Regions from separate parts of the Homo sapiens genome. Here all the other regions are linked to region 4. Evidence: fine-mapped expression QTL. A gene starts in region 4. Each other region holds a variant in brackets. All regions are shown on one strand. Distances are from middle to middle. Region 1 overlaps FOXN3 (forkhead box N3). Region 2 has its middle 24 kb from the start of SPATA7. Region 3 overlaps SPATA7 (spermatogenesis associated 7). Region 4 holds the start of SPATA7 (spermatogenesis associated 7).

What was found.
Region 1: its variant is fine-mapped to the expression of SPATA7 in pancreas (GTEx, PIP 0.96).
Region 2: its variant is fine-mapped to the expression of SPATA7 in esophagus muscle (GTEx, PIP above 0.99). The same link has a PIP of 0.9 or more in aorta, cerebral cortex, fibroblasts, monocytes, prefrontal cortex and sigmoid colon.
Region 3: its variant is fine-mapped to the expression of SPATA7 in monocytes (Quach 2016, PIP 0.95).

Annotation. Positions count from the first base shown.
Region 1 is chr14:89,185,506-89,193,614 of GRCh38, forward strand. The region is part of intron 4 of FOXN3 (forkhead box N3); the gene reads right to left. Among named protein-coding and RNA genes, the nearest start is that of FOXN3-AS3, 160 kb to the right of the region's middle. RefSeq lists a silencer at 2,849-3,033. The variant C/T (reference allele first, on the strand shown) is at 3,967.
Region 2 is chr14:88,357,566-88,365,674 of GRCh38, forward strand. No RefSeq gene overlaps it. Among named protein-coding and RNA genes, the nearest start is that of SPATA7, 24 kb to the right of the region's middle. RefSeq lists an enhancer at 7,056-7,863 and a silencer at 7,200-7,494. The variant G/A (reference allele first, on the strand shown) is at 3,524.
Region 3 is chr14:88,438,438-88,446,546 of GRCh38, forward strand. It overlaps SPATA7 (spermatogenesis associated 7), which reads left to right. Exons shown (of 12, transcript NM_018418.5): 12 at 1-23. Among named protein-coding and RNA genes, the nearest start is that of SPATA7, 57 kb to the left of the region's middle. The variant AT/A (reference allele first, on the strand shown) is at 4,503.
Region 4 is chr14:88,380,896-88,389,004 of GRCh38, forward strand. SPATA7 (spermatogenesis associated 7) reads left to right here and starts at 4,762. Exons shown (of 12, transcript NM_018418.5): 1 at 4,762-4,942. The coding sequence starts at 4,924. RefSeq lists enhancers at 4,445-4,524, 4,555-4,624, 4,635-4,954.

The sequences.
Region 1 (8,109 bases), 800 kb after region 4:
GACCAAAACCTTTACAGCCAATCTGACGCACCTGATGTACTGAAGTGCACTGGCCTCCAGCTATGTAAGACATCAAAAGGGCTGGACGTTGAAAGTCAACTTCTTCCTCGGATTTGTGGCTCTCTCCAGACAAGGCCCAGGCCTCTAGCATCATCCTTGCAGGTTAGGCCAGTTACGTATTTATCTTTTAGATGAGAGAATACCCACCCCTGAGGCTCTCAGGATGAGGGACATTGGCGCCACACTTCCCCACACTTGCCATCAGCCACGTTCTCTGCAGTTAGAGAGGGACTCTTAAGCTTTCTGGTTTTAACTAGCAAGAGGGCAACCTTCACACATAAGAAGAGAGCCAAACAGAGCAGCACTGCTCATTGTAGATGCTATGTTCTAAATGGGATAACGCAATCCTGAGAATCTTAAAAAGAAAAAAGTCTAAGGTCCAAGACAAACTCCTCCACGCTACATTGTCCCTCAGCACTTCCCCAGCTCCCCTCCTGAGGCTTAGCTTCCTTGGTTTTTCACAACTTCTAAAATTAACCTCTGAGCTCTTGCCGCTGCCTTTGGAGGGCAGCCCTGGCTAACTCTCTCAGAGGCCATAAGCTGAGCAGCAGGTGATTCCGCTAATCCTTCCCTTTCCTAAAGTCAGCCTTTCCACCTGCTTACTTGGAAGCACACTGGGGAGGGGGCTGGCACGGGGAGACACAGCCTATTTCCTAGTTGTCTTCCCTCTGCTGTGCCTGGTGTGTCTGACATACATCCCAGTTCCAGGCAGGGGGAGGAACGCCTTCCCCCAATCCCTCCCCTTCCCTCGTTCCATTTTGTTGTTTTGTTTATTATCTAGTTTGTCTCTGGGAACCTTCCAACCAGGGATTATATAAGCCTTTGAAGATGAGTAATGGAGATCTGGCTTCTCCTGACTAACAAGTCCTCCATTGGGGTTAAAGCTGACTCACGGGGCTTGTCAAACGGGAACTGCAAAGCAGGTACTGAAGGAGATACTAGAAGCTGGAATGAATCTACATAGCCATTTTGAGGGTGGAGAGGGTGGGGTAGGCAGATGGATTTGACTGGAGCATAATCCAAAGTCCAGGGGGTAATGAGCCAGCCATGTCCCATGCTGACTGTTCTGAAGGCAGCATCCTATAGAGCGCGTGAGACATGGTGGCTCTCCTTGCAGAATGTTTCCTATGCTGCAAACGGGCAAAGTCTAAAAGGGCTAATGTCACATGCACAGCGGATGCTGCCAGGAGGACAAAATGTTGTAGCCTGAGGTTTTTATTAGGTGCACACTGCCGCTGCACTGCAAGTGAAGCATTAGACTGAAATGAGAGGTGGAGGGACCCCTAGGGACTCCAGCCCAAGCAAGACATGGTGTGCTGGGCTCCCTTGGGGCAACACGGACCCTCCAATGATAAAGAGGCTTGCTCTGCCTGGGGCTCTCACCAGAGTCTGAGCCATTTCCTTTGTGCAACCTAGTCAGCTTCAGACCCTGGACTGTGGCCAGTCTGCCGGCCTTGAGCTACCTTTACAGATGCTGAGCAAGGGTAGGAGGAAGAGAAAAGATCTAAGTGGCTGCCATCTGGTGACCTGGAGTGGCTATGAAGGGTGAGGACAAAGGAAAAGCCTTCCAGCTATCCAGGCCAGCCTCTATCTGCTGGGAGCAGAACAGCAGCAGAGACTAGGTTGGTGGCCCCCATGCAAGCAGGGGCATCTAGCAGCCCAAGAGGTGAAAACAAGGGGCTATAAATAGCACCGCACGAGGAAGCTCTATCAACAGAGCCCAGCCATAGCACCAGCCCACGGGGGAATACAGGCAGGCTCTGCGCAGACAGGAAATGTGTTGCTCTCCGAAGCCACACTCTCCACTCATGGGCAGTGGCAGGACCCCTCAACCTAGAGAAGACCTGGGATATATCCACACTGGGACACAGGCACACAAACACCCCTACATAGGCTGCCCACACACCATCACTGTGGCTGGCTGGCTGTTGCCTTTAACCATTTTTGCACAGGAATAGCCTCTCACTTTTTCCAGGCCTTGGGCGATGCCGGCAGGGCAGGGGATGACTGCCTAATCATTCTGCCTGTAATGCTTCTCCCTTAAGAAGGCAAAGGACTGCCTCAAATCCCAAGGCAAATAACGTTATGCAATATAAAATGAAAAGAAAGGTGGCGGGGGTAGGGGGCACGGAGAAAGAGTGAAGCCAGAAAGAGCTAACCACAAGCTGCAGATACATTCCTCTGGTTGGGTTTATGGGGAGGATGGGCCAGCTGGCTTCCCAAGTGCACAGAGAAGACGCTCCATGCATCTTCACTCCCTTGCTAAGGAACTGCTCCAATCCTTGGGGTCCTTACAACCTGCTCCTTGACTGTACTTGCCCTTGACCTCCAGGGCATTGAACCAGGGCTGGCGGTCAGATGGGACGGTGAATGCAAAGGTAGACTCCCTACTTTCTGCCCAGTCTTCACATTTACTTCTCTGTTATTCCTGTCCATGAGCGTCTCCTTCTGTGACCTTTGTAGGCACCCCGGGTTCTTTCCTTCCACTGTCTTGGAGCCCCGTTCTTGGCCTGGGGCTTTCATGAAGGCTGTGGCTGGATTTCTCACACAGCGGTAATAGCCTTCTAAAAAAAAGCCTTCTAAAAATGAGCCTACAGCTTCAAAACATGAACACTGAGCTTGTAAAACTCAAATTCAGCATTTCAATGTAAATAGGACCGTGGCTACCCTGGAAAAAGAAGTATTTACAGTCTGAGTATTACAGAGTTGGAGAGGGGAGGCGAACACTGAAAACAACTCACTTGTCAACTCATCAGGAGAAGCCTTTTTCCTTTCCTACCTATGCTCAAGAATCCAGTAATCATGGACGTTTATGGAAGCTGCTGAGGATCTGTGAAGGATCAATCAGTCCCCTTGCCTGGCTTGGTTTCATTTCAAAGATATTCCAGGCTCCAGCAGGCCTGCTTCACCAGACTCTTCTCCAAAATGGCAGCTTGGTGATGAGGTCCCAGAAGAGACAGAAATTTCTAAAAATGGGTACTGCTCCGGTCCATTACGTTTAAGCTGGCCCCATATAGCCTCTTCTAGCAGAAGGTCATGGTCCCATTTTCCCTCTGAACTTCAGCAACCAGCTGGAAGTATTTTTGTGAAACTAATGATCACTGTGTAGTGGCTGGGTGCAAAGGAAGGTGCTCGAATCTTACATGGCTCTGATGAAATCAGTATGTTTCCACTGGGTTGAGTTATGCAACTTAATTTTAGAAATCTTTTCAGCCTGGAACTTGATTACAATCTGGTCTGTACTTTTCCTGCAATGCCATCTAAGAATGGAAGTTTATTTAAAAAAAAAAATTTAAAAACATATACATTTCTCTGAAATATGAAACATCATTTAAAAACCACACTCCAGGTTAACTGCTAGTTATAGAGCTAGGCCAGTGACACATCTGCTTAGCAGTGGTGTTTGCATGTCAGAGGTGTAGGCAGCCCAACATTGCAATGGCTGGAGGTCTGAGTTTGGAAAGAGAGAATCAGAACTCTAGACTGTTCGGAACAGGTAATGGCAGCTCCAGGCAGAGGAACAAGTCTCCCTGAGAATGCTCAGCTGAATTTCTTGGGTCTTTTAAAATAGGAACAAATAAGAAAGGTTGGAGTCAAATATCCTAAAGTTGTCAGGAAGGCTGGGACAAGCAGAGGGGCTATGACGGATGGCCTGGAACTCCACGTAGTCCAATACTAACAAAAGGCACCTGTTTTGGGTCTGAGGATGGATGTTTTCCTGTGTGAAGTAGCATCCACTCCAAAGGCAGGGACTTCCCACTGCTCAGCAAGCCATGTGGCCCTCAGAGAGCCAGAACCCAAAATGAGCTGAAGGCCTAGCCATAAGAAGGAGATAGGTGAGTGCCAGCCCCTAAGCGGTGGTGTTGTAGTGGCGTCTGCTGCTTCATGTCACTATTTCCTCACTAC[C/T]GTGTTTCATCAGTAAGAGGCTGTAACACAGCAATGTCCTAACAACAAGCTGAGCAGACCTTGGTAAACCAGCTGTCTGTGTGTTCAACAGGGTTCTAGCTGGGTATGGGATGTGGGCACTGGTACTGACCTCGAGTGGGGAGAAGGAAGGGACAGATATCTTTGTTTGAAGTCACTCTTCATCCCTTGGGAAGAGATCTTTCTAAAACCATGGTAGACTATCTCCAGAGATGGTAAAAACCTCAGGTGGTGAGAAGAGAAGTCTCAGTAAGGAAATGTTGTCTCAAACTTGACATTGTTGAAGGCCAACAAAAAGAAGGTGAGGATGGGAGTCCTGCTTAGCTAAACAGCCCTACCCTGCTATCTGGGGCAGCCTGGGAGGCTGGATAGAAATGGTCCAAGCTGGTAGCGTGGTTTCATTTCAAAGATATTCCAGGCTCCAACAGGCCTATTTCACTAGACTCTTCTCCAAAATGGCAGCCTGGCGATGAGGTCCCAGAAGAGAAAGAAATTTCTAAAAATGGGTACTGCTCAGGTCCATTAGGGTTAAGTTGACCCCATGTAGCCTCTTCTAGGAGAAACTACAAACTCACAGGAACAATACCTGCAGGAGCAAGGAAGGCCTCTTCACTGGGACTCATTAAAGGATCTGTTTCCCTTTCCCCAAGTCTTAAGTCCTGAAATTATATAAGAACTTTCTCATCTTGGAAACACACCTATGCATTCATTCATACATATGCATGGCTGCATGTTTATATGCATATGCATGTAATCATGCACTTATGTAGCTTTTAAAGTGATTCTATAAGGGAAGTTCTACTTTAGCATTAGTTCTTCCTATGACCTGGTGTATAAATGAGAAGGTTAAGTTCACAAACTATGGTGCTGTAGGCTATAGAAATATCTACTCACAACCTGCTTGTATCTCAGGGGGAGTATTCAAAAGCATCATGGCACTGGCAGCATCAATGTCAGGATCTGGAAAAATCAACCAATAAATAACATTATTTACAACGGGGCCGGTGTGTGTGTGTGTTTTTCCCCCTGCAAGTTACAGTTTATGAATGCAACAGAGAAAAAAAAAATATCCAGCAACTGGATGAGCTATCCCAAAGGCGACTTTCTTCCCAGTGGGATTTGAGAAGAAGAAAAGGTATTCTAGAATGAGATTTAAGGATCATGTTAGTAAATTTTTCATCACACAAGCATGGTTTCTTCTCATTTTGTTAATTTTATAATTTGCACTGTATGTTCCTGATAAATTGCTGATCTATGCACCCCCACAGCTTTTACCGTGGGGTGAGGAGCAGGAGAGTCAGTGACAATAGGAAGTTCAGCCATATGAATCTTTAATGAACTGGGGAAAGCTCACAGCATCAAGAAAGCATTAAATACACCTGCATCTAGTGAGATACAAACAAGACATGTGGTCATTTCCATTTGTCAGCAGAATGTAAATTGTGTTTCACGAGGTTATGTGTTTGTAACAGTGGTGTGGATGTGGTGAAGGCATTAAAAAAAAGCACTTAAAATATAAAGAAAAAAGTAAAGTTGTCATGTTGAGGGCACAATGTTTGCTTCCACTTCTATTATTGCTTTTAATATGGGTAAAAAAAAAATACTCATCACTCCATTGCTATAATTCTTAATAGGTTTCTGAATCCTTACTGATCCACCAGTTGACAGATGGCAGGTTATATAGAGACAGAGAAAAATATTATCCTTTTATAACTAAATTCATTTTCCTCTGAGAAACAGCAGCTCTGCTGCTATGGAAATGAAGGTCACCATGGCAACAGTAAACAACCCCCAAGAATGGTCACTGAATAGGCTGAAAAGAACATCTGCCCCAGCGCAGCGTCCCAGCTGCCCTGGGGCGAAATTCACTAATAGTGCGGTGATGCCGCGTGACAGAAGCTGCCGCCTGTGCCCTGTCCAAATAAATGAAGTGTGCAATTGAAGTCGACATCAAAATGCCTTCCCTTGCAGATTACTGCCTCTGTGTCCGCCAAACCCAATGACTAATGATGGGGGACAAGGGGCTCGCACTTGTCAGTTTTTGTACAAATTACATACCAAAAAATTCAATTTGCTACTAATGGCTCCATGGCACCTTATTTTGGATATTATGCTAGAAAATTACTTTTTTAATGTTTAAAAAAGTACATTTTTCATACTTTATATGTGTGGTTTAATTCCAAAGGAGTAACATGATTGGTAAAAAGAGGCCCACAAGCGATTAATGATATGGATAATGCTGGTTCCCGAAAACAGGGTCTCAAAAAAAAAAAAAAATAGAACTTGACTTTGAAGAGTTTTTTTTCTATTTTGCCTGCAGGAGGCCTGTTACTTACATTCCATAATGGACTAAAAGTTTATTTTAATAAGTACATTATATGAGAAACAAGTAAATTAACTTATTTGGCAACCCTAGGGGTGAAATTCCTAAAACAGTCACCATTTCCCACTGATATTAGTATATATATATATACACATATATATAACTATAATATATAATATATATTAGCTAATATAATTAATCATTAATCATCAACTAACATATATAAACTATTATATATAATAATATACATACTATATTAGCTATTATATATAATAGTATATATACAGTTTATATATTTGGCAACTCCAGGGGTGAAATACCTTAAACAGTCACCATTTCCCACTGATATTAATATATATTATATATTAATATATTAACTACAATGCACATTAAATATGTATATGAATATTATATATTAAGTATATTATATTAACCATTATATATAACAGTATATATTAAGTACTTATATATACTATATAATAAACTATGCATACTATTATATATGATCATTAATAAAATATATAGTTATATGTAATAGTATACAGTTTATATATTAACTATTTTATATAAGTTAATATACAAACTACAAAATATCAGTTTATAATAGTTGTAATAGTTTATAATACATAAATTATATATTATATATAAACTATAGTTTATATATACTATTACATATAATAGTTAACATTTTATAAACTATATATTAGTTTATAATAGTTGTATATAACTTTATAACATATGAATTATACAATATATAACACATATGTTATATGTAATATAAACTATATAATATAAGCTATATAAACTATATAATATAAACTATATAAATCTTATATAGTTTATATATACTATTATATATAATAGTTAATATACACTACTATATATAATGGTTAATAGTTTATACTATTATATAATAGTTAATATATGTATACTATCATATATAATAGTTTATATATTATTAGTTGAATTTTATATATTTAATATATATAAATATATAAGATATAGAAAAATATATATATTTATATATAAAACCATTCAGCTAAAAAACTAAAAGTTCTTCCCACTGCCCCTGTGGCTCCCACTGCCCCGGGTCCCTTGGTCCCCCACAGGGCCTGTTGCCTGCAAGCAGCACTCACAGCCCCAGCATTCTTGCTGGCATCTCACAAGTCACAAGGGACAAGCAGTTCCTAAGGGGGGCTGTTAAGGCCTCAGGCCTTTCCCTCTTGCCCCTCGTTTTAGAAAGGGCCTTTTCCTTTCTCAGGGGGTAGCCAAGAAAAACGATTTTTTCCTGCCAAGCAAAAGGTCTCTGCCATTATTGAGAACGAAAGTGCTACAGGTGACCATGGTTGGCCTGGCTACATGGTCCCTGCCTCCGCAGGTGACTCGTACCCAAAGTTTTTCTCGGTGGCCAGGAGGTTTGCTGGGCCCAGAACAAGAAGAAACACAGGGAGGAAGTCTGGAGTCTTTTCCTATTTATATGGCCAGAAAATTAAAGAAAATATTTCAGTATTCTTCCAAAACACATTAAAGGAAATTGTAGAGGGACACAAATAAAAAGAAGACATAGTGAAAGAAAGAAAACAGAAAGAGAGAAAGAAAACCTTAAAGGAAAAGTATTCCATCAATAATCACACATGTGGGAGAACCTAAGTGGGACATTCCCAAGGCACACTTGTGGGGGTGCTTTGGATCTGTAGAGCATCCACCTATGACCCCCCACCCCCCCACCTTCTGTTATTCATCAAAGATGGGGTGTCAATAGTTCATTCCTTATGGCTATCGCTGAGTGGTAGTCACTGAAC
Region 2 (8,109 bases), 23 kb before region 4:
AAGCTGTCAATAAAAGTAGTTTCTAGGAGACTCCATTTTCATAGTCTAGTTTGAACACTACAAAAAGTCTGACTGTGATTGGCTAGGATTATGTATAACTGTAAGTAATGGAACATTTAGTTCTCTCTTCTGAAAGTCTGAAGATAGTAGCCCTTCTAGGTTGGTATGAGCTTCCATAGTATCAGGGACTCAGATTCTGATGTAGTTTGGTTCTGTGTCCCCACCCAAATCTCATCTCGAGCTGTTATCCCCATGTGCTGAGGGAGGGACCTGTAATCCCCACATATGGAGGGAGGGAGGTGATTGGATTATGGGTGACATTTCCCCCATGTTGTTCTCATGATAGTGAGTTACTTCTCATGAGATCTGATGGTTTTATAAGGGGCTCTTCCCCTTTGCTCTTACTTCCCTCTCTCGCCTGCTGCTATGTGAGACATGCCTGCTTCCCCTTCCGCCATGATTGCAAGTTTCCCGAGGCCTCCCCAGCCACGAAGAATTGTGAGTCAATTAAATCTCTTTTTTAAAATAAATTACCCGGTATCAGGTATTTCTTTATAGCAGTGTGAAAACCAAGGGAGGCAGGTCCCAAGAGAACCATTCTTTTGTAGGTGCCAACAAAAAGGGGAAATGTGATTCCACTCTCTGGTTTAATGTCTACATTAGTCAGTGGATCTGCTCACCTGCCCCTGTGATCCAGGTGGAGGGGAATGAATTAAGAAGACAAGGAATGATGGAGGGTGGTAAGACAGAGAGAGGCCACTTCCTTTCTTTGCATCCCTTCCATAGTTCCAGATCCCAAGAAGTACAGAAAAGGATCCCACAGGTACTTGTAAGTCTGTGAGTCTGTGGCCTACAGTCTCTAGCTGGGGATTGCTGTAGCAGGGGTCAAGGAGGCAAGCACACTGAAGCAGTGGGGGAATATGCGGACCGAGGGTCTTCATTTGGAGTCAAATCTCACAACATATTACCAACATCTGGGGAAGCTGCTTGGGGAGGCTGCCATCAGAGGGGCATGCTAGAGCCATCGCTTGTCTACATTGAACCCTCAGACAACAACGGTGTCAACCACCCATGAGAGCTACGTAAAGACAAGTCAAATAAGGAGCTGGGTCTTTCTTGTTCCTTTTCCTTCTCCAGCTCAGCATCAGAGAAGCAGGTGCATGGAGGGAGGAAGAAGGGGTTATATGAAAGCAGATCATGCCCCCTCAAATGCCAGCCCTGGTGCCCACTGGTCTAGCCAATGCTGGGAGGAGTGGGGGAGAAGAGCTTTGGATCTGAAAAAAAATTAAAGTTTAAATAAACAGAGCTGAGTCTTAAAAACTGAAAGTGACTTTTAATTACTGAAAATGACAAAAAGCTAAAGAATCAGGCTGAAGTGTTATAAAGAGCCCCTGTCACCCAGTGAGGAGGGGACTGTGTTAGAGCAGCGTTGAAAATAGTGGTTGGGAAAAATAAGTGTTCTTTGTTTTTACCCGCAAATGAATTGAGACTCCTTCCTCAATGAACCAAATTTGTCCTTTAGTCAAAATCACACCAGTGAAGCAGCCTATGCCAATTTGAACAGATCCTTGTCTACTCCCTCTTTCCTCCATCTGGAAACAGGGATACCACTATACTAAGCAAGTGATTCCCAAAGCTAAGACTTCTAAGTACCACCTACATGGCTTTTGCCATATTGTTATACCACCTGTACTATTATTTACTTTATAGTTTTCCCTTGAATTTACTCACTTTAAAAATTAACCATATTTTTAAAAGAAACTGGCTCAATTATAATTGGAAGAACAGTACAGTATTCCCTTCTTAGCCATGAAAAATGCATTCCAAGATCCCCAATGGATGCCTGGAAACATGGATAGTACGAAACCCTAAACACACACTGTCTTTTCCCATACGTACTACCTACGATGAAGCTTAATTTATACATTAGACACAGGAATAGATTAACAACAATAACAATAAAATAGGACAACCCTAACAATATACAGTAACAAAAGTTATATGAATTTAGGTTCTCTCTCTCTCTGTAAACATCTCATTGTACTGTACTCACTCTTCTTGTGATGATGTGAGATGATCATTGAGAGGGCTACTAAGTGACTCATTAGTGGGAAGTGGAGACAGCGTGGAGACACTGGACAAAGGGAGGATTCACATCCCACATGGGACAAAGCAGGACAGTGCAAGGTTTCATCATGCTATTCAGAATAGCACACAATTTATAACTTAGAAAGTGTTTATTTCCAGAATTTTCCACTTAATATTGTTGAAGCATGGTCGACCATGGGTAACTGAAATCTTGAAAACCAAGCCCAATTACTACTGTAGAAATTGCCATAAATGAGCACAACAAAGATGATACTCTCAAATCTTATCTAAATACTGTGGCCTGAGCCCAAGCTTTGATCTTTGTTAGAAAGGGAGATTAGCAAGGGTGAGAGGTGCTAAAGACACACTAGTAACAAACAGAGACTTTCTCCTTGATGTAATTAGGGTTGAAAGAATTGCAAAGTGAATGACTTTCTTATGGGGTAATTCAAAGTTTTTTAATGCTGTGACTGAGCAATAATGTATGAAATTAAAAAACCTCACCTGAGAGGAAGCATGTTCTGCTATATAATGATGCCAGCAGTACATACCTGCCTCCAACATCTTGCTAAGCAGCTTTTATAACTACCAGGGAACTTACACTGAAAGGTGATGTGCTAAAAGATAAGTCTTAGAATCTGAGGGCATGAAGTGCTATGGGTACATATTAAATGCTCTGACAGGTACGATTCTTTCATTGCAAGCAACAGAAAAGAATTTGTTGGCTTATGATATGGTCTGGCTCTGTGTCCCCACCCAAATCTCATCTTGAATTGTAACCCAAATTGTAATCCCCACGTGTTGGGGAAGGGACCTCGTGGGAGGTGACTGACTTGACCAGGGCAGTTCCTTTGTGCTGTTCTCATGATAGTGAGATCTCGTGAGATCTGATGGTTTTGTAATAGGCCTTTCCCCCCTTCACTCTGCACTTCTCTAATTCTTCTCCTTCCTGTCTCCATGTGAAGAAGGACGTGTTTGCTTCCTCTTCATCTGTAATTGTAACTTTCCTGAGGCCTCCCCAGCCATGCTGAACTGTAAGTCAATTAAACCCCTTCCCTTTATAAATTGCTCAGTCTCAGGTATGTCTTTATTAGCAGCGTGAGAACAAACTAATACAGCTTATATAACTGGTAGGGCCAGAGGCAGAGCTCACTTCAACCAGAGTTGTATTTGGATGATAAAATAGTCTCTTCAGGAGGTGTTCTGAGTCTCTTTGTCTCTCTCTTCCAGCTTAGCAGATGCAGCAGAAAAAGTCAATACTAGAATCTCTAGCAGCTATGTCCCAGGGAGGTTGCCGATAGGATGGTGTGCTGACCAGGGCCCCACACCCACCTGGAATGAATGCCTGAAGCCAGCTTGCCTGGGAGTGTTCTCCTGGATCCCATTCCCATTTCCTGTGATAATAGAGAGCTAGAAGAAAAGAAGGGACTGGGAA[G/A]GAGGGAAGATCAAGACCTAGGATGAATTTCCCACAGGAAGACAAGGGAAAAGGTGCTAGGCAGTCAAAAACAAGTGTTCACAACAAATGCCTTCTCTGCACCAGGCATAGCCAATATGAAAATAACCTAAAAGGTCACTTAATGATATTTTAAATTACAAAGAGTAAATGTGTGTTTAATGGTCCCTGTTGCCTGGGCAGCAGACACCGCTGATGCTCAGCCCACATCTCCTCAGCCCTTACCACTTTATTGGATGCCAATCCCAACTTCAACAGCCAGTGTGTGCACCTTACTGCTTACAGCTTTCTCTGAACATGGAAACTTACTTACATGCCAATAGGGCAAGTCAGAAGGCCAGGGAATTAGCCACCTAAGGCCCTTACAGCCCTTAGACAAGTACAGTTGTTAGATGGTGGATCAATGCCCTAGCTTCCCCACCCCTGGGGTAGGATAACTGCTGAGTTCTGTACTGTTTCCCAGCTCCTTCCTGGTGGGATTGAGTTCCAGTTACCCACAGTGGTAACTTGCTTGATAGCATTCCTTTTTTGGCTTCCTTCTCTTCTCTCTCTCACTTCCATGTCCCCCTTCTAGTGTTTATTTGGACCATCTCCTAAATAAACTACTTGTACTTGAATTCTTGTTCCAGAGGAACCCAAACTATGACAGCCAAAAGTAGTGGTAAGTTATTTAAATGTATTACCTCCTGTCATTCTCTTAACAATCACATGAATTGTACACTATTATTATGCTATTTTGCAGATAAAGAAATGAGGCCCTTAGTAAAGGCCACACTGCTGGGGAAAAGCACAGCTAGAATTCAAAGCAGGTTGACTCCAACACACACTTAACAATGGCTGCTGTGCTTCCTGACACTTTACAATATCCCTATAGACCCCCAGCTTCCAGTGATTCTATTCAAAGCAGGTAAATCCCAGAGCATCACTGAAGGGGATGTAAATGAACTGGAGAAAGTACTGTTGTTCCGTAGAATCCCAGGGGGAAACGTGACCCAAGTAGCCTTGCACGTAGTAGGTGCCCCTTAATATTTATTGAAATAACATGTGGCAGTATTTACTTTACAAAACATCATTAGTGTTATTCTTTATGCTATCCTTGAAAAAGGGAAGCTTTCTGAGGGATAATTCTCCAGTAAAATGTTTCTAAATCAATACAAATGACAGTCCCCCTGGATTACGATAAAGTAATCATCTCCAGAGTAGAAGAAAATTGGACTCAACCGTGTTCAGAATAATACATGTTGCTCTTTTACAAAAAAAATGTATAACTTCAAAATATACATATTCTTACTTATCTAGGACAGCTTAGGTACAGGTTTGCCTAAGACCAAAGACTGAAGCAAATTCTCATTGATCTTTTCCATTTTATACATCCCCAATTGCATATGAAAATCATTTTTCTATTATTTTAGGTAGCACATGCATAAGAGAGTGAACACGCCTAAGGACAAGTCACTGAAATAATTGTCTTCCTGCCTATTTCCTGATTTAGTGGAATGAGCACGAAATCAAGAGTCATAAAGACCAATTGTGTGGGCTAATTACTTATCTTTTCTGGGCTCCATAGCTTTTTCTGCAAAATTAGAACTTTTGCTTAGCAATCACCAGCATCCTCCTAGCCCCTAAATTTTCTGACAAACAAGGGAAAATATTTGCTTACCTCCAGCCTTGTGTACAAACTGAATTAAAGAGTGTCGGAACATCACTTCTTCTACCTTGTTCAGATATTGTACAGAAACATTCACTCTGCATCTTATAAATAACACAGAGGAAGTCTTTCTGTACCCAGATCACCACCAAACTTTCTATCTTGACTGTGCTTTCACTGTGGGAAATATTAATAGCTCCTGTGTTCATTGTGACCTCAATGTTATCATAATCTCAGGTTGCCTATAGGTATAAACTTCAGTGAATACTTAACGTTACAGAATGATAGGCTGTTTTCATAACACATTTTCACACTGTTGGATAATTTAGATTTTGTTTAAAAACATAATGAACACTAAGAAGTTGTTTGCAGACAAGGAAATGGAAGACTTCAAAGAGGATAAGAGAAATCTCACATTTAATTCAATTAAGTCAGAGAATGAACATGTCTAAGGATGTCAAGAACCACCCTCCCACCTCCATTTTCTAAGATTACTTACTCAAATATTCTAAAGAAATAATTAATTTAGTCTAAATTAAATCTAAGTTTCTAATAGTGTTCTTCAAATACTTCAAACTACTAGGTAGAACCAAGTGATATTGTCTAATTGACAATTTTTTATTTATAAAACAGCAATTTCATGTCATTCAATCTAATAATTTAGAGTGTTTCTGTATATTGCAGGCAGACATCTAACAAGACAAAGAACTAAAGTGTGACTGGAGTGGAGACTGAAATCCCTTAGAAAGACTAGGCAAAGTATCAATAAAGAATGGTTTTCATTGGTAGCTTACATAAATCATGGCTTTTAAAAATTGATTTGTGCGTGGCAGTTTGTGAATAGTAGATGCACTTATAAGAGCTTTTCAAAAATTCTTTAACTGTTAAAACTTCAGATTCTATTTTTTTAAGTGGAAAAGATATTATCAGGATAGATGAACAGATTGGTTAAGCTTTTTGTTTTGCTTTGTTTTTCATGGTGAAGCCACTTGTAAACAGAGAATGCATTCGGTGGAGATTATCAAAGCTTTAGGGTGAGCATCCTCCCAAATGTACTGTTGTGGAGATTGATTGACAGTGGAAGAATAGATGGAATGCTCTTCTTAAGCTATGGGGACAGGTTACCTAGTAACCACTGAATGATTAAGTTCTGTTCACAGAGACTTGTTCTGTTAATTGGACGAAAAGATTTAAAGAGCGCAGCTGGGGAGAAATGGAAAGATGGAGGACCGTGGCCATTATTAGTGGACCTGACCAGCAGCCTTAGCCAAATTGTCACAATATGAGTGAATCTTCTGTTAGTACAAAGAAGTCAGTGAAGCTACCTACAGAGTCACAATTTTGTGCACTTTTTAACTGTAGGAAAAATGAAAATAAGGTGTGGAATTACACATATTAAAAAGTGCAGTGAAAACTGTGCGGTGTTATAGTTCTGAGAATGATCATTTTCTGTGGACAAGATTATATTTGTGTTCAGATATCAGAGTTCTATTATTTAAGAGAACTCAAAATAGGCACTTGGGGTCAGTATATCCTATCACAACTCTCTTCGGTCTAATACCATCAGGCACATACTGCTTTATAGAGAATTGTGGTCACCTCTGTTCTCTCCTGCTTTTAACAATAAAATTAAGAAAAGTCAAGGTATAGATTGGTAATAATGACATTTTTCATTCATTAAGGATTAAGAAAAAGCAAGGTATAGTTTGGTAATAATGACATTTTTTATTCATTAAGGATTTTTAGATGATAGAGTACTTTTTGCCTATGCTCAAAAAAGAACTCAGTATTTATATTTTAGAAAGGAAAAAGTATCTAAGACAAGTCTCAATCAATTTAGAGATTTATTTTGCCAAGGTTAAGGGTCATGACCTATGACACAGCCTCAGGAGGTCCTAAGGACATGTGCCCAAGGTGGCTGGGTTATAGCTTGATTTTATGCATTTTAGGGAGACAGAAGTTACAGGTAAAGACATAAATCAATACATGTAAGGTATATATTGGTGTAGCCAGGAAAGGTGGGACATCTTGAAGGTGGGGGTTAGGCTTCTAAGTCATAGGTGGATTTAAAATTTTCCTGATTGGCAATTGGTTGAAAGGGGTAAGCTCTGCCTGAAGAGTTGAAATCAGCTTGAGTGAAGGTAACTGGGGAGGGGTGGGTTGTGGAAACCAAGGTTTTTGTCATGTAGATGAAGCCTCCAAGTAGGAGAATTCAGAGACAATAGATGTGAATGTTTCCTATGGAACTTTAAAGGTCGGTCAGACTATTCAGAAAGACCTAGTAAAGGAAGGAGATTCTCTACAGAATGCAAATTTCCCTCACAAGAGACAGCTTTGCAGGACCATCTCAAAATATATCAAATAAATATATTTTGGGGTAAAATACTTTCGCTTTCTTCAGGGCCTACTATCTGTCACGTGATGCTATACTAGAGTCTGTTTGGAACTTGCTGGCTTATTGCTACAGAGCCTGTTCTGTCAGTCTTAGAATTCCTGTTTTCATATTAATGCTGGTCAGTTGTGCCTGAACTTCAAAGGGAGGCGGGTATAATGAATATGTCCTACCTTCCCCTTCCTGTGATGGCCTGAACTGGTTTTTCAGATTCCTTTGGGTCCCCTTGGCTAAGAGGAGGATCCATTCAGTCAGTTGGGGGGACTTAGAATTTTCTTTTGGTTTACCATATATATATGTATGTATATGTACACATATATTATCTAATTGGAGAAGCTCTACCTTGGAGCAGAGCTTTTTTGTCTGCTTGGGTTTTTTTTTAATTTTTAATTTTTGTGGGTACATGATAGGTACATGTATTTATGAGTTGCATGAGATATTTTGATACAGGCAAGCAATGGATAATAATCACTTAAGAGTGAATGGGATATACATCTGCTCAAGCACTTTTCCTTTATGTTACAAATA
Region 3 (8,109 bases), 58 kb after region 4:
ACCTCAAATGGCCAGTAACTCAATATTACTTTTCTTCCTTTTTTAAAATGTATGTATAAGATTTCTCTATTGGTTTTCTGTGCTGCAATAATAAGTTACCAGAAACCTAGCGGCCTAATGTGCCACACATTTATTATTTATCCCACAGTTTTGTGGATCAGGAGTGTAGGCACAGCTTAGTTGGGTCCTCTGTCCTGGGTCTCACAAGGCTACCCCACAATCAAGGCAGTGGCTGGGGCCATGTTTTCATTAAGAGGCTTGTTGGCAGAATTATCCTCCTTGCAGTTATAGATTTGAGGGCTTCGTTGTCTTGCTGACCAGTGGCTAGAGGCTGCCTATAGTTCTCTGCCACTTGGCCCTTTCCTTAGGGAAATTATAACGTGGCTGCTTGCTTTTTTAAGGATATCAGGAAAACCAGAGAGATTCTGCTAACAAGATGGAGTCTTATATAATGTAACATAATCACAGGAGTGACTTTCTATCACCTTTACCGTGTTCTTTTGGGTAGAAGCAAGTCACAGGTCTTGCCCACACTTAAGGGTTGGGAATATATACAAGGGTGTGAATGCCAGAACACAGGAATCACTGGGGTCATCTGAGGACCTGCTGGCCACAATTTCTAAAATCACTTTTCAGAGGAAAACATATTTTACCTATATTTTCAGAGGAACATATTTTACCCAGACATAAGCGGTTTTGTAGGCTATGGGAAATGGTTTATGATCTGGTGTGAGTCTTGAAGCGTTGGACCTTGTCTGCAATATCTTTAATTTTGTTTTTCTCACTTTTCCTGCAATATCTAAAGCCTCAAGGACCTTTCAGTTGTCAGTGACCCAGGGAATTCTGTCAGCTGGCTGAGATGTTGTCTCTTGTTGTGAGTGCAAACATTTAGTCAGACCTGTCTGAAGCCCTCTCCTACCCTTGTAGCTCATGAATGAGACCCTTACTATTAGAACATGGCCCAGCAGATTCATCTCTAATTATACCTTTTTAACTATTTACAATAATATAATTGAATATTTGTGTGCCCATTATGTACAAAGTTTCATGCCTAGATACTGTGGAGGATAAAAACAATAACCCATTTTGTTTTTATAAGCTATATTTTAATTTTATATTTAAAAAAATACAACCCAGGTATTCTTCTAAAAACTTAACAGTGACTTCCAAGTATCCTGTTCTTTAACTCGGGTTTTTATCATCCTTTGGCCATAGCAGTGTTTCCCAAAGGGTGGTACTTACCACTGGAGACCTGAGAGTTGATTTTAGTGGTATGTGGATGACAGGTCCATCTCATTCATGGGATGCTGACCATCACCACTGTCTTCAGGATAAGACACAGGTACAACCTGCAAAGCACAATATGGTGGGACTGAGCACCCAACCCACTTTTCACCTCCACTGTCGGAATCCCCAACTCACCCTGCTACAACCCTTTTTTGGCACACCTTCCCCTCAGCCCTCACCTCTGGACTTCTTCCCTTTAACCCTGTAAGCAACACCGTCTATCCCCTCTTGCAGTCCTCTTAAACCTCCTGAAATAACCTTGGCTCTATTCTTGGTCCCCAGCCTGGGTCTCCCCATCTGTTAGATCTTTACCCCTCTAGTTGCTTCTTGGGTTCTGTTGTTCCTCAGCCCCAGGGTTCCTTTCTTCAGTCCCAGCCTCACTCTTTCACAAACCCCCTCTTCCCATTCCCCATGTAACTACCCCAGACCTACTGGCCTGGCCCAAATTTTCCTTCCTTGGCTGGAGCTACCATCTGTCTTTCCGGAGGCATTCTCAGAAACTATCTCCTGGCTGCTGTTCTCCAACACTTTGGTCCAAGCCCCAGACCTGCCCTATTTGACATTCAGTCTTCATGCTCTAACTCTGGGTACAGCTTCTTGTCTCTGGGGCCATGACCCATCCTAATTTGGATACCTATTAGGACAATTTGTTGTTATCCTTTAGTTTCCCTTTAAGTTTTAAAAGGTGAGTTGATTTAAAGAAATATTAAAAATGGTTCTTGAATGTGGCAAAAGTATTATAGTATGAAGGTAGGATGTGGGTGGTAAGTTTGGGAAACAGCACTTAAACTCTTCTAGCAGCATCTTTTTTTATCCCTAAGACATCTTGTTACAGCATCAAGCAACATCTTTATATCTTCCCCTCTTCCTTCTCACACAGCCCATCAACTGAGGCTGAGAGGCATGATGAATGCGAGTGTGTCTTCTGAGCCAGGTTGCCTGGATTTGATTCCTTTTGAGCTGTGACTTTGAGCTGGGTTACTGAGCCTGTGTGTGTTTTCTCATATCTTGGAGAGGGGTAATTATAGAGCCTTTATCATAGAATACAAGAATTAAATGAGCTTGCATGATAAATACAGGCTGCTGCTACTTTTTTTTTTGCTATTTATTTTTTATTTCAGTAGGATTTTGGGAACAGGTGATGTTTGGTTACATGAATAAGTTCTTCATTGGTGACTTCTGAGATTTTGGTGCACCCAGCACCTAAGCAGTGTACATTGTACCCAATGTGTAGTCTTTTATCCCTCACTCCCCGCCTACCCTTTCCCCTCAGCCCCCAAAGTCCATTGTATTATTCTTATGCCTTTGCATCCTCATAGCTTAGCTCCCACTTATGAGTGAGAACATACAATGTTTGGTTTTCCATTCCTGAGTTACTTCACTTAGAATAATGGTCTCCAATTCCATCTAGGTTGCTGCAAATGCCATTATTTCATTCCTTTTTATGGCTGAGTAGTATTCAATTGTGTGTGTGTGTGTGTATATATATACACACATCACATTTTCATTATCCACTTGTTGATCGATGGGCATATGGGCTGGTTCCATATTTTTGCAATTGTGAATTGTACTCCTATAAACATGCGTGTGCAAGTTATCTTTTTTGTATAATGACTTCTTTTCCTCTGGGTAGATACCCAGGAGTGGGATTGCTGGATCAAATGGTAGATCTACCTTTAGTTCTTTAAGGAATCTCCACACTGTTTTCCATAGTGGTTGCACTAGTATACATTCCCACTAACAGTGTAAAAGTGTTCCCTGTTCACCACATCCACACCAATATCTACTATTTTTTTATTTTTTGATTATGGCCATTCTTGGAACAGTAAGGTGGTATCGCGTTGTGGTTTTGATTTGCAGTTCCTTGATAATTAGTGATGTTGAACATTTTTTCATATGTTTATTGGCTATTTGTATATCTTCTTTTGAGAATTGTCTATTCATGTCCTTAGCCCATTGTTGATGGGATTGTTTTTGTTTCTTGCTGATTTGTTTGAGTTACTTGTAGATTCTGGATATTAGTCCTTTGTCAGATGTATAGATTGCAAAGATTTTCTTCACTCTGTGGGTTGTCTGTTTACTGATTATTTCTTTTGCTATGCAGAATCATTTTAGTTTACCTAAGTATCATCTGTTTATCTCTGTTTTTGATGCATTTGCGTTTGGGTTCTTGGTCATGAACACTTTGCCTAAGCCAGTGTCTAGAAAGGCTTTTCTGATGTTATATTCTAGAATTTTTATAGTTTCAGGTCTTAGATTTAAGTCTTTGATCCATCTTGAGTTGATTTTTCCATAAGGTGAGAGATGAGGATCGAGTTTCATTCTTCTACACGTGGCTTACCAATTGTCCCAGCACCATTTGTTGAATAGCTTTGTTGACAGTCAGCTGACTGCAAATATGTGGCTACATTTCTGGGTTGTTTATTCCATTCCTTTGGTCTATATGCCTGTTTGTTTGTTTGTTTGTTTGTTTGTTTGTTTTTGAGGCAGAGTCTCACTCTGTCACCCAGGCTGGAGTGCAGTGGTGTGATCTGGGCTCACTGCAACTTCTGCCTCCTGGGTTCAAGCGATTCTCCGACCTCAGCCTCCCAAGTAGCTGAGATTACAGGCACCTGCCACCATGCCCAGCTAATTTTTGTAGTTTTAGTTTGTAGTTTGTAATTTTAGTAGAGACGGGGTTTCACCATGTGGGCCATGTTGGCCAGGCTGTCTCAAACTCCAGCATAGAAGGTATGTTCCTTCTATGCTGATTTTGCTGAGGGTTTTAATCATAAAGGGATGCTGGATTTTGTCAAATGCTTTATCTGGTCTATTCAGATGATCATGTGATTTTTGTTTTTAATTCTGTTTATGTGGTATATCACATTTATTGATTTTCAGATGTTAAACCATCCCTGCAGCCCTGGTATGAAACCCACTTGATCGTGATGGATTATCTTTTTGATATGCTGTTGGATTCGGTTAGCTAGGATTTCGTTGAGGATTTTTGCATCTGTGTTCATCAGGGATGTTGGTCCATAGTTTTGTTTTTTTGATATGTCCTTTCCTGGTTTTGGTATTAGGGTGATCATGGCTTCATAGAATGATTTAGGGAGGATTCCCTCTTTATCTTTTGGAATAGTGTCCATAGGATTGGTACCAATTCTTCTTTGAATGTCTGATAGAATTCAGCTGTGAATTCATCTGGTCCTGGAATTTTTGGTTTTTTGTTAGTA[AT/A]TTTTTTTTTTTTTTTTTTGAGATAGAGTCTCGCTCTGTCACCTAGGCTGGAGTGCAGTGGTGCGATCTCAGCTCACTGCTGCAACCTCTGCCTCTTGGTTTCAAGCAACTCTCCTGCCTCAGCCTCCCAAGTAGCTGGAATTACAGGTGCCTGCCACTGCGCCCAGCTAATTTTTGTATTTTTAGTAGAGACATGGTTTCACCATGTTGGCCAGACTGGTCTTGAACTCCTGACCTCGTGGTCCACCCGCCTTGGCCTCCCAAAGTGTTGGGATTACAGGCGTGAGCCACTGTGCCCAGCCTATTTTTGTTGGTAATTTTTAAATTACCATTTCAATCTCACTGCTCGTTATTGGTCTGTTTAGAGTTTTCTGTTTCTTCCTGTTTAATCTAGGAGGGTTGTATATTTCCAGGAATGTATCCATCTCCTCTAGGTTTTCTAGTTTATGCATGTAAAGCTGTTCATAGTAGCCTTGAATCATCTTTTTTGTTTCTGTGGTATCGGTTGTAATATGTCCTGCTTATTTCTTGTATTTATTTATTTATTTATTATTATTATACTTTAAGTTTTAGGGTACATGTGCACAATGTGCAGGTTAGTTACATATGTATACATGTGCCATGCTGGTGCGCTGCACCCACTAACTGGTCATCTAGCATTAGGTATATCTCCCAATGCCATCCCTCCCCCGACCCCACGACCCCACAACAGTTCCCAGAGTGTGATGTTCCCTTTCCTGTGTCCATGTGTTCTCATTGTTCAATTCCCACCTATGAGTGAGAACATGTGGTGTTTGGTTTTCTGTCCTTGAGATAGTTTGCTCAGAATGATGGTTTCCAGCTTCATCCATGTTCCCACAAAGGACATAAACTCATCCTTTTTTATGGCTGCATAGTATTGCATGGTGTGTATGTGCCACATTTTCTTAATCCAGTCTATCATTGATGGACATTTGGGTTGGTTCCAAGTCTTTGCTATTGTGAATAATGCCGCAATAAACATACGTGTGCATGTGTCTTTATAGCAGCATGATTTATAGTCCTTTGGGTATATACCCAGTAATGGGATGGCTGGGTCAAATGGTATTTCTAGTTCTAGATCCCTGAGGAATCGCCACACTGACTTTCACAATGGTTGAACTAGTTTACAGTCCCACCAACAGTGTAAAAGTGTTCCTATTTCTCCACATCCTCTCCAGCACCTGTTGTTTCCTGACTTTTTAATGATCGCCATTCTAACTGGTGTGAGATGGTATCTCATTGTGGTTTTGATTTGCATATCTCTGATGGCCAGTGATGGTGAGCAGTTTTTCATGTGTTTTTTGGCTGCATAAATGTCTTCTTTTGAGAAGTGTCTGTTCATGTCCTTTGCCCACTTTTTAATGGGGTTGTTTGTTTTTTTCTTGTAAATTTGTTTGAGTTCGTTGTAGATTCTGGATATTAGCCCTTTGTCAGATGAGTAGGTTGTGAAAATTTTCTCCCATTTTTTAGGTTGCCTGTTCACTCTGATGGTAGTTTCTTTTGCTGTGCAGAAGCTCTTTAGTTTAATTAGATCCCATTTGTCAATTTTGGCTTTTGTTGCCATTGCTTTTGGTGTTTTAGACATGAAGTCCTTGCCCATGCCTATGTCCTGAATGGTAATGCCTAGGTTTTCTTCTAGGGTTTTTATGGTTTTAGGTCTAACGTTTAAGTCTTTAATCCATCCTGAACTGATTTTCGTATAAGGTGTAAGGAAGGGATCCAGTTTCAGCTTTCTACATATGGCTAGCCAGTTTTCCCAGCACCATTTATTAAATAGGGAATCCTTTCCCCATTGCTTGTTTTCCTCAGGTTTGTCAAAGATCAGATAGTTGTAGATATGCGGCGTTATTTCTGAGGCCTCTGTTCTGTTCCATTGATCTATATCTCTGTTTTGGTACCAGTACCATGCTGTTTTTGTTACTGTAGCCTTGTAGTATAGTATGAAGTCAGGTAGTGTGATGCCTCCAGCTTTGTTCTTTTGGCTTAGGATTGACTTGGCGATGCAGGCTCTTTTTTGGTTCCATATGAACTTTAAAGTAGTTTTTTCCAGTTCTGTGAAGAAAGTCATTGGTAGCTTGATGGGGATGGCATTGAATCTGTAAATTACCTTGGGCAGTATGGCCATTTTCACAATATTGATTCTTCCTACCCATGAGCATGGAATGTTCTTCCACTTGTTTGTATCCTCTTTTATTTCCTTGAGCAGTGGTTTGTAGTTCTCCTTGAAGAGGTCCTTCACATCCCTTGTAAGTTGGATTCCTAGGTATTTTATTCTCTTTGAAGCAATTGTGAATGGGAGTTCACTCATGATTTGGCTCTCTGTTTGTCTGTTGTTGGTGTATAAGAATGCTTGTGATTTTTGTACATTGATTTTGTATCCAGAGACTTTGCTGAAGTTGCTTATCAGCTTAAGGAGATTTTGGGCTGAGACAATGGGGTTTTCTAGATATACAATCATGTCATCTGCAAACAGGGACAGTTTGACTTCCTCTTTTCCTAACTGAATACCCTTTATTTCCTTCTCCTGCCCAATTGCCCTGGCCAGAACTTCCAACACTGTGTTGAATAGGAGTGGTGAGAGAGGGCATCCCTGTCTTGTGCCAGTTTTCAAAGGGAATGCTTCCAGTTTTTGCCCATTCAGTATGATATTGGCTGTGGGTTTGTCATAGATAGCTCTTATTATTTTGAAATACGTCCCATCAATACCTAATTTATTGAGAGTTTTTAGTATGAAAGGTTGTTGAATTTTGTCAAAGGCCTTTTCTGCATCTATTGAGATAATCATGTGTTTTTTGTCTTTGGTTCTGTTTATATGCTGGATTACCTTTATTGATTTGCGTATATTGAACCAGCCTTGCATCCCAGGGATGAAGCCCACTTGATCATGGTGGATAAGCTTTTTGATGTGCTGCTGGATTCGGTTTGCCAGTATTTTATTGAGGATTTTTGTATCAATGTTCATCAAGGATATTGGTCTAAAATTCTCTTTTTTGGTTGTATCTCTGTCCGGCTTTGGTATCAGGATGATGCTGGCCTCATAAAATGAGTTAGGGAGGATTCCCTCTTTTTCTATGGATTGGAATAGTTTCAGAAGGAATGGTACCAGTTCCTCCTTGTACCTCTGGTAGAATTCGGCTGTGAATCCATCTGGTCCTGGACTCTTTGGTTGGTAAGCTATTGATTATTGCCACAATTTCAGATCCTGTTATTGGTCTATTCAGAGATTCAACTTTTCCTGGTTTAGTCTTGGGAGGGTGTATGTGTCCAGGAATTTATCCATTTCTTCTAGATTTTCTAGTTTATTTGCATAGAGGTGTTTGTAGTATTCTCTGATGGTAGTTTGTATTTCTGTGGGATCGGTGGTGATATCCCCTTTATCATTTTTTATTGCATCTATTTGATTCTTCTCTCTTTTTTTGTTTATTAGTCTTGCTAGCAGTCTATCAATTTTGTTGATCCTTTCAAAAAACCAGCTCCTGGATTAATTAATTTTTTGAAGGGTTTTTTGTGTCTCTATTTCCTTCAGTTCTGCTCTGATTTTAGTTATTTCTTGCCTTCTGCTAGCTTTTGAATGTGTTTGCTCTT
Region 4 (8,109 bases):
TGTCTTTCAGGAACTTTAAGGGTTAAAATATGTTCGCAATAACTCAATAAATAGAAAAATGTTGTTTTGAACTTTGGCTTCTTGTTGTTTTCACTGTATTTACTGGAACATTTTCTAAACACACAAATATAAATTCCAGGAATCCTCTGAATTATGAAACTAAGGGTCATCCATAAAGACATAGATTAAATATATAATAATAACATAATGCTTAAAATAATAATATATAATAAAACAGAATAAACAATAAACTATATATTATTTGCATAACTATAGGTTATGGTATTAAAATATATAGTTTATTTCACTTATATAAAATTGAAATATATTGTATATTTCAAATATATAAAAGCCCATTTCCAAAGGGCTTAGAGCTCATCCAATAAGACAGGCCTAATTAAACCATTAAAAGAAGAAGTCATATTCCTAATAAAGGGAATTAACGAGATAAATTTTTAAAAGGCTATGAATATTTATTTCAACTGAGCACAAATCTTAGTTTTGAGGTTCCTGTAAGCTAATACAAAAAAAGAAACCCAGTAATTGATTAGTTCATGCCAATTCATTAAGGGAAACAAAGTATTTCCGTCTAAAACACACATATGGGTCAGGCACAGTGGCTCATGCCTGTAATCCCAGAACTTTAGGAGGCTATGGCAGGTGGATCACTTTAGGCCTGGAGTTTCAGACCAGCCTGGCCAACATGGCAAAACCCTGTCTCTACTAAAAATACAAAAATTAGCCAGGCATGGTGGCTCACGCCTGTAATCCAGCACTTTGGGAGGCTGAGGCGGGTGGATTGCCTGAGCTCAGGAGTTCAAGACCAGCCTGAGCAACACAGCGAAACCCCGTCTCTACTAAAATACAAAAGAAATTAGCTGGGTGTGGTGGCATGCACCTGTAGTCCCAATTACTCGGCAGGCTGAGGCAGGAGGATTGCTTGAATCCGGGAGGCGGAGGTTGCAGTGAGTCAAGATCACACCACCGCACTCCGCCTGAGCGATGGAGCGAGATTTCGTCTCTACAAAAATAAATAAATAAATAAACAAACAAAAACACATATGCAGATTTCTAAATGTCAATAACAAGATTATAGCATTGGAATAATTTCAGAACATGAAATTCAGGTGTAAACATATATATTCAACAAAAGGTCTTCAGAATGCCTACTCTCCAAGGCCATTGCAGCTGGTGATGATTTTCCCAATAGAAGGGTGTTTCTTGGGAGCTCACCCTATAATAAACTCATACCAGCTGTATCCATCACCCATGATCATGAATTATTTCCTGGGAATAGCAACCAGAAAGAATCTTCTCTCTTGTTTACATACATAGAGCCAAAGCAAAGGACAAATTAAATTGCACTTAGGATAACATGTTCATTGCTAAAATTTGAGAGACATAGACCCTATTATGCACACATTCTTGAAATAATTGGAACAAAATATTGAAAGGGAAATAATGAAATAGATGGCTTCAGACAAAGTTGGGTACCAGACAATATGGTCTCCAGAAGTTTCTCCCATTCTGCTGCCCTCTCCAGATCACGCACCCCCCCGTTCTACTTGAAAACAAAATCTACTTGTCATCCTAAAGTCTACTTTTCTAAGAGGAGCTGGTATCACCTTCCCTGAGTCAAGTCACTGTGTTGCTTATCCCAAGGGTGTTTGCCTTGGGTTCCTTGTTTCTAATTCAATTTAACAAATGCTTACTGGAGGCCTATTATATGCAAAGTATTTGCTAGCTGCCAGTAGTGAAATAAAGGCCTTCATGATCTTAGAAATGGATTTCAGGCAATAATGAGTACCTAGGAAGGAGTTTTTGTTCTCTGCATGATATGATTTGGCTCTGTGTCCCCCTCCAAATTTCATGTTGAACTGTAATCCCCATGTTGGGGGAGGTACCTAGTGAGAGGTAATTGGATCATGGGGGTGGATTTTCCCCTTGTCGTTCTCATGATAGTGAGTTCTCATGAGATATGTTTGTTAAAACATGTGTAGCACTTTCCTCTTCGCTCTCTCTCCCTCCTACTCTGCCATGTGAAGAAGCTACTTGCTTCCCCTTTGCCCTTCCACCATGATAGTGTTTCCTGAGGCCTCCCCAGCCATGCTTTCTGTACAGCCTATGGAACTGTGAGTCAATTAAACCTCTTTTCTTCATAAATTACCCAGTCTCAGGTAGTTCTTTACAGTAATGTGAGAATGAACTAATAGACTGCATAACATCTGACTCCCTGCCCCTGTATCCTTCCAAATTACTTTTGTTGTTGGGGCCACAGAGCCATCACACACACTTCAACATGCCTCCAATTTTGAATCATTGTCTGCCTACCCTGGGTTTTAGGAAAACAGGGGTTCAAGCGTTATTATAACCGGGTTTCTGATTTATTTCTCCTTCCTTGTTACAGAGTTTCTGACTTACTCCCTCAAGCCTGAATTCCCTGATACCCAGCTCTGCTGAGATAGGAATCTCAGAAGAGAGAAAGCTAACATTTATTGAATACATTCTTTTATTTGCCAGGCACTGTTAATTCTTTTAACTATAAAATTAGTAGCATCATTTTTTCATCCCAAGCAACAGAGAGGTAGACTGTTGATGAAAAGAGTCAAACTCTGTAAAATATTTTTAGAGATTTATTCTGAGCCAAATATGAGTGACCCTCAGGAGGTCCTGAGAACATGTGCCCAAAGTGGTTGAGGTGCAGCTTGGTTTTATACATTTTAGGGAGGCATGAGACATCAATCAAATAAGAAATACATTGGTTTGGTTCAGAAAGGTGGGACAACTCAATGAGTATGTAAATTTAAACATTTCCTGGTTGACAATTGGTTGAGTTTATCTGAAGGCCTGGGATCAATAAAAAGGAAATGTTGGGGTTAAGATAAAAGATTGTGGAGACCAAGTTTATTGTGCAGAGGAAGCTCTCAGTATAGCAGACCTCAGAGAGAGAGCAGATTGTAAAATTTGTCTTGTCGGACCTAAAAGGGTGCCTGGCTCTTAGTTGGTTATCTCCTGGATTTGGAAAGGAAAGAAGGAAAACAAAGGGGAAAAGAGATTCTCTATAGAATGTGGTTTTTTCCCACAAGAGATTTTGCAGGGCAATTTCAAGATATGGCAAGGAAATATATCTTGGGGTTAAATATTTTGATTTTTTTTTCCTTGTCTCATAATATTATGCCAGAATCAGATTGGAAAGTAAGTCATGGTATATAGAGTCAAATAAAACCCATCTGATAAGAATTTATGGTTTCTAGGGCATGACTCCCTAGACACCTTAGATAGGAATTTGGGCAAGATAAAAAAATTAGAGCTTAGTCCTCAACTCTACAGAAGAAAATGACATTTACCCAGGAATGGGCATTGCAATAGGAATATGCGTGCCATGGCAAACTGTTTGCATATTCAAGGAATTAAAGGAAAAAAAAGTTTTTTTAAAAAATAAAAAAAGGAGAGGATTACATAATTGTTTTGAGGTAATTAGCCTTGGCTCCAAGCATCAATAACAAGGGTGATGTCAGTTCAAGGTTGGACAGACAATTGCTGGACAGATGTCCTCATAGAAGTATCTTTTTGGGTAAGGTGGAGGTCTTTGTGCAAGGTTGTGGTTTTCGCAGTATTTTGTGATAGTTTTATTATCAGGCATTCATGGATGAGAACTCTCCTTCATGGCCTTCTCCAGTTCCACTTGTCAGGTTTTCTAACACATGTGACTCTATTTTTGATTCTGACAACTTTCACAATCTACATTAGAAAAGAGAAAACTGGGGCTCAGAAAGTTTTAGAAACTAATTCAAGATCAAGCTGGTAAGTAGCAAAAAATTTAGAATTAAGTTCTACATATCTGGTTCCAAAACCAGGACTCTTTTCATTACAGCAGTGGTTCTCAACAGAGTTGCGATTTTGCCCCCCAGGGAATATTTCACAATGTCTGGAGACATTTATGACTGTCAGGATTGGAGGTGGAGTGGGTGGGGTCTGCTTCTGAGAAGCTACTTGCTTCTAGTAAACGGAGGACAGGGATGCTACAAAACAGTTCATAGGGACAGCACCCCCACAACAGAGAATTATACAACCAGCCCAAAATGTCAATGGACATTTGGGCTGAGAAGTCTTACATGACAGAATGCTTCCTACCCTGATCTGACGTTATTTCCAAGGATTCAAAGGTAACTGCTTCAAAATTAAACAAATTATAGAAAGCCATCAATAAATCAACCCCTTATTCATGTTGCAGCTCTCTTCCATTATAAATAAAAATGGATTGAAACTTACGATAAAAGGGAGGCAGGGACAGGAGCGGGGAAGCTTGGCGAGCAGAAAGGAAATTCAAACTTATTATTAAGGTTAAGAATTAAGATGTAAATATGTAGATGTTTTTCACCCCTAGGATTTTCACTAATCCAAAAGTTCACGGACTGCTTTGAAATTTAATTATTTGGAACTGGTTAAATGTTACCCTGACCTCAGCTAACATTTGTGTTTCACTTTTCTCCGGGACCCAGGGGACGTGGATGCCAGATGAGTCCACCTCCTCTCCCTGCTCTTCCCGCAGGGACAGAGCCTGCCAGGTGCTGGTGACTCGGATCCTGACAGGAGGTCGCTCTGCGGAAGACTGGCAGGATCCCAGAGCAACAGACTGGGGCTCGATGCCCCTTCCCCGCCAGGTCTCTCCGTCCGCAACTGTCCTCCTAGTACCGGGTATCCCGCAGGCGGGGCTGCGGAACGCACGTCCCCTGCGCCGTGACGTCACAATAGCGACTCACTGGACCCAGCCCTTAGCAACGGCCTGGCAACGGTTTCCCTGCTGCTGCAGCCCCCGTCGGCTCCTCTTTTCCAGTCCTCCACTGCCGGGGCTGGGCCCGGCCGCGGGAAGGACCGAAGGGGATACAGCGTGTCCCTGCGGCGGCTGCAAGAGGACTAAGCATGGATGGCAGCCGGAGAGGTAAAGGGCAGCTGTCAGGGGCTACCGCCGCCTCGCCCCTCGCTCCAGGCGGCGCTCCCAGCCTCGGGTCCGGGCAGCTGAGTGCAAGGCCGCCCCTTGGGGCGCTTCCTACCCCTGGCTGAGTCGCCAGTGTTGCCTGGAGCTGCCCAGGCCTGCGCAAAGGAAGAGGGAGAGCCTGCTTGCCAGCCTCGCAGGTCCGCTTCTTTGCCCTGAATTTGTCGCCCTGACACCAGGGGCCCCTGTCTCCTGAACTCAGGGTCGTGCAGCCTTTAAAACCTCAGTAGCTCCCAGGCAGAGGAACCAGGTTTGGTCTTTGGAGTCAGACCTCCCCGGGCCCCAAATCAAACCCCTCTGCTCTCCATGGAGACGACCCTCAGTTTTCTTATCTCTTGAACGTGAGGGTCAAATACCCAGGCCATGGAGTTCTTGAGGATTAAATGCAGATAATATAGAGAAGATCCTGGCGCATTTGAAGTGGTCAGTAAATACGAAATCTCCCAGTAACGAACTACCTCCCCCAAAGCTACTGAGTAACCCAGGGTTTCTGTAACTTTCTGTGAATAGGAATCCCCTCAGGGTCATGTTAAAATGCAGATTATGATTCAGTAGGTCCCTTGGGGGTGGCTGAGATTTTGCATTTATAATAAATTCCAAGTAATGCGGTGTTGCTGGTCAGCGGACTGCAGTTTTAGCAGCAATCCGTACTCACCATATACACCTGTTCTCTACTGATTTCTTGAGTCAGGTGGACATCATGTGGTGGGGTTGGGGGTGGGGAAATACAATCTTAAATATCTACAAATCGGCCCAAACCAAATAATTTGCATTTTCACACTTTCTGAGCCAGTATCATTCTTTCCTCGAGTCAAATGAGGCAATCTTTATAGACTCCCCGCCCCTCCCAATTCAGTGTTTTTATCTATTTAAAAGACTGCCTTTAAACCAAGCTGCTAGATGATTCCTTGATGTCTTTCTTTGAATGAGTCTGCCTTTATTATATAGTCATTGATCAAAATAAGTGCTACTCCGAATGTAGGAGATAACTATTCATTGATCAGCAAACTATTCTGACACTTCACCAACCTAGGTTTCAGAAAAAGCAAATCAAAACGCTTTATGATCTTAAGAAATTTTGCATATAAACTAACATTAAACCCTTGCTATGTACTAGGAACTATTTCCAAATTATCTCATTTAATGTACAAAAATACCTTGATAGGCATTAGCCTTATTTCATAGTGAAGAAACTAAAGCAAAAGATCACAAATAACTTGCCAAGATCACAGCGGCAGAACAGGATTTGAATCTAGGTGAAGAATATAAATCTGAAGCCAATGCATTTACTTACTATCCCATGGTAGGGATGGGCAGGGGGAAAGGATAAATGTAACATTTAGAGTATGGTAGATTTAGTAAGTTGTCAGTATTTGTTTATTGAATTATTTTAAAAATTGGGTTCATGCCAAATGTAAAAAGGTTTATATTTTTACAACTTGCACAATTTAATTAGCTTCATTTTTAGGAAATAATATATGATAATGTCAAATACTGTTATTTTGAATTTTTAAAATAAATGTAATCACCAAATAACCAGGGCAGTCAGCTTTCATGTACTGTAAATTAATAGGAAACCATAAATAATTTTAGACACAGCTAAAATAATTGAGAATAAATTTCTTAGATTTCATTAGGAGGTGCTTTTAGTTATTTCAGAGCATAAAATATTAAAACATCTAAAGAAAAATTATCTTTTGTCATGCTCTTACTGTAATCACGTTTTAGACATTCTTTTGTAAGGCAAGCCTTCTAAATGGTGGTATAGTACAGCACCAGACTGAAAAACGGTTAGTCTTGTTTGTAATCTTTGTTTCCTACTAACTAACTAGGTAATCTTCAGCATGTCACTGTACGTCCCTGGGCCTCAGTTATTTATAAAATGGGGGCTTGGACTAGGTATATATAAGGCATGGTTTCCAGCTTCCTATGGGGGAAGGTGAAGAAAAGATTGAGAATAACAAACTGCCATTCACTCTAATATCAATGACCTTTAGGAAGGAGAGGAGACAACCTATTAGTATATTACTGAAAGTAACTTGAAAAAAAATTTTTTCCCAGCACTCTGGGAGGCTGAGGCAGGTGGATCACTTGAGGTCAGGAGTTTGAGACCAGCCTGGGCAACAGAATTAAACCCTGTCTCCACCAAAAAATACAAAAATTAGCCAGGCATGGTGGCGTGCGCCTGTAGTCCCAGCTACTCGGGAGGCTAAGGCAGGAGAATCACTTGAACCTGGGAGGGGGAGGTTGCAGTGAGCCAAGATCATGCCACTGCCCTCCAGCCTGGGCAACAGAGCAAGACTCCATCTCAAAAAAAAAATTGTTTTGATCTGTTGGTCTCATAGAGACACTTATCAATGGTAGATTTCCAAACCTTTGGTTTTCCAGAGAAACCTTGCCACAAGAAACACTTTCATCTTTCCTCACTGGACTTTCTTCTGGCTATTTTAATCAAATTGTGTAGGAAAATGGGCTGCTCTCATATACCAGTGAATTTCACCACTAAGACCTTCAATCTCATTGACAAGATTTTAGTCCTAATAGTTAGAGAATGATGTTCTTTTCCTTGGCATTTGGTTTGAGGCTACTTCTCCATGCCCCTTTGGCTCATTCTGGGTCCAGTCCAGTCAGGAGATAGAAACCATACAGTGATTTTTATACAAGGAAAAGTTAAAGAATTGTTATACTTTCATAAAAGAGTAACTATAAGATGTAAGGGGCTGGGCGTGTCAGCTCATGCCTGTAATCTCAGCATTTTAGGAGGCTGAGGCAGGAGCATCACTTGAGGTCAGTGGTTTGTAATCAGCCTGGGTAACATAGCAAGACCCTGTCTCTAGTATATAAAACAAATTAATGAATTAATTAAAAAGATAAGAAAACTGTATTTGGTACCTAGAATTACGGGAAAGTACTCAAAGAAGGACAATTTGAAAGAGAGTTTCTCCCAAAGACTGGGGTTCAGACCTCATTAGAGAAGGCGTGATTGTGCACTTGCCCAAAGCTTCATCACCGAGGAGTGATATCGGAGGCTTCACATTCCATGGGAAATAGACTTTGATAAATTGCTTAGCCAAGTCACTAAACAAACAAGTGAACAACAATGAAAACAAGCT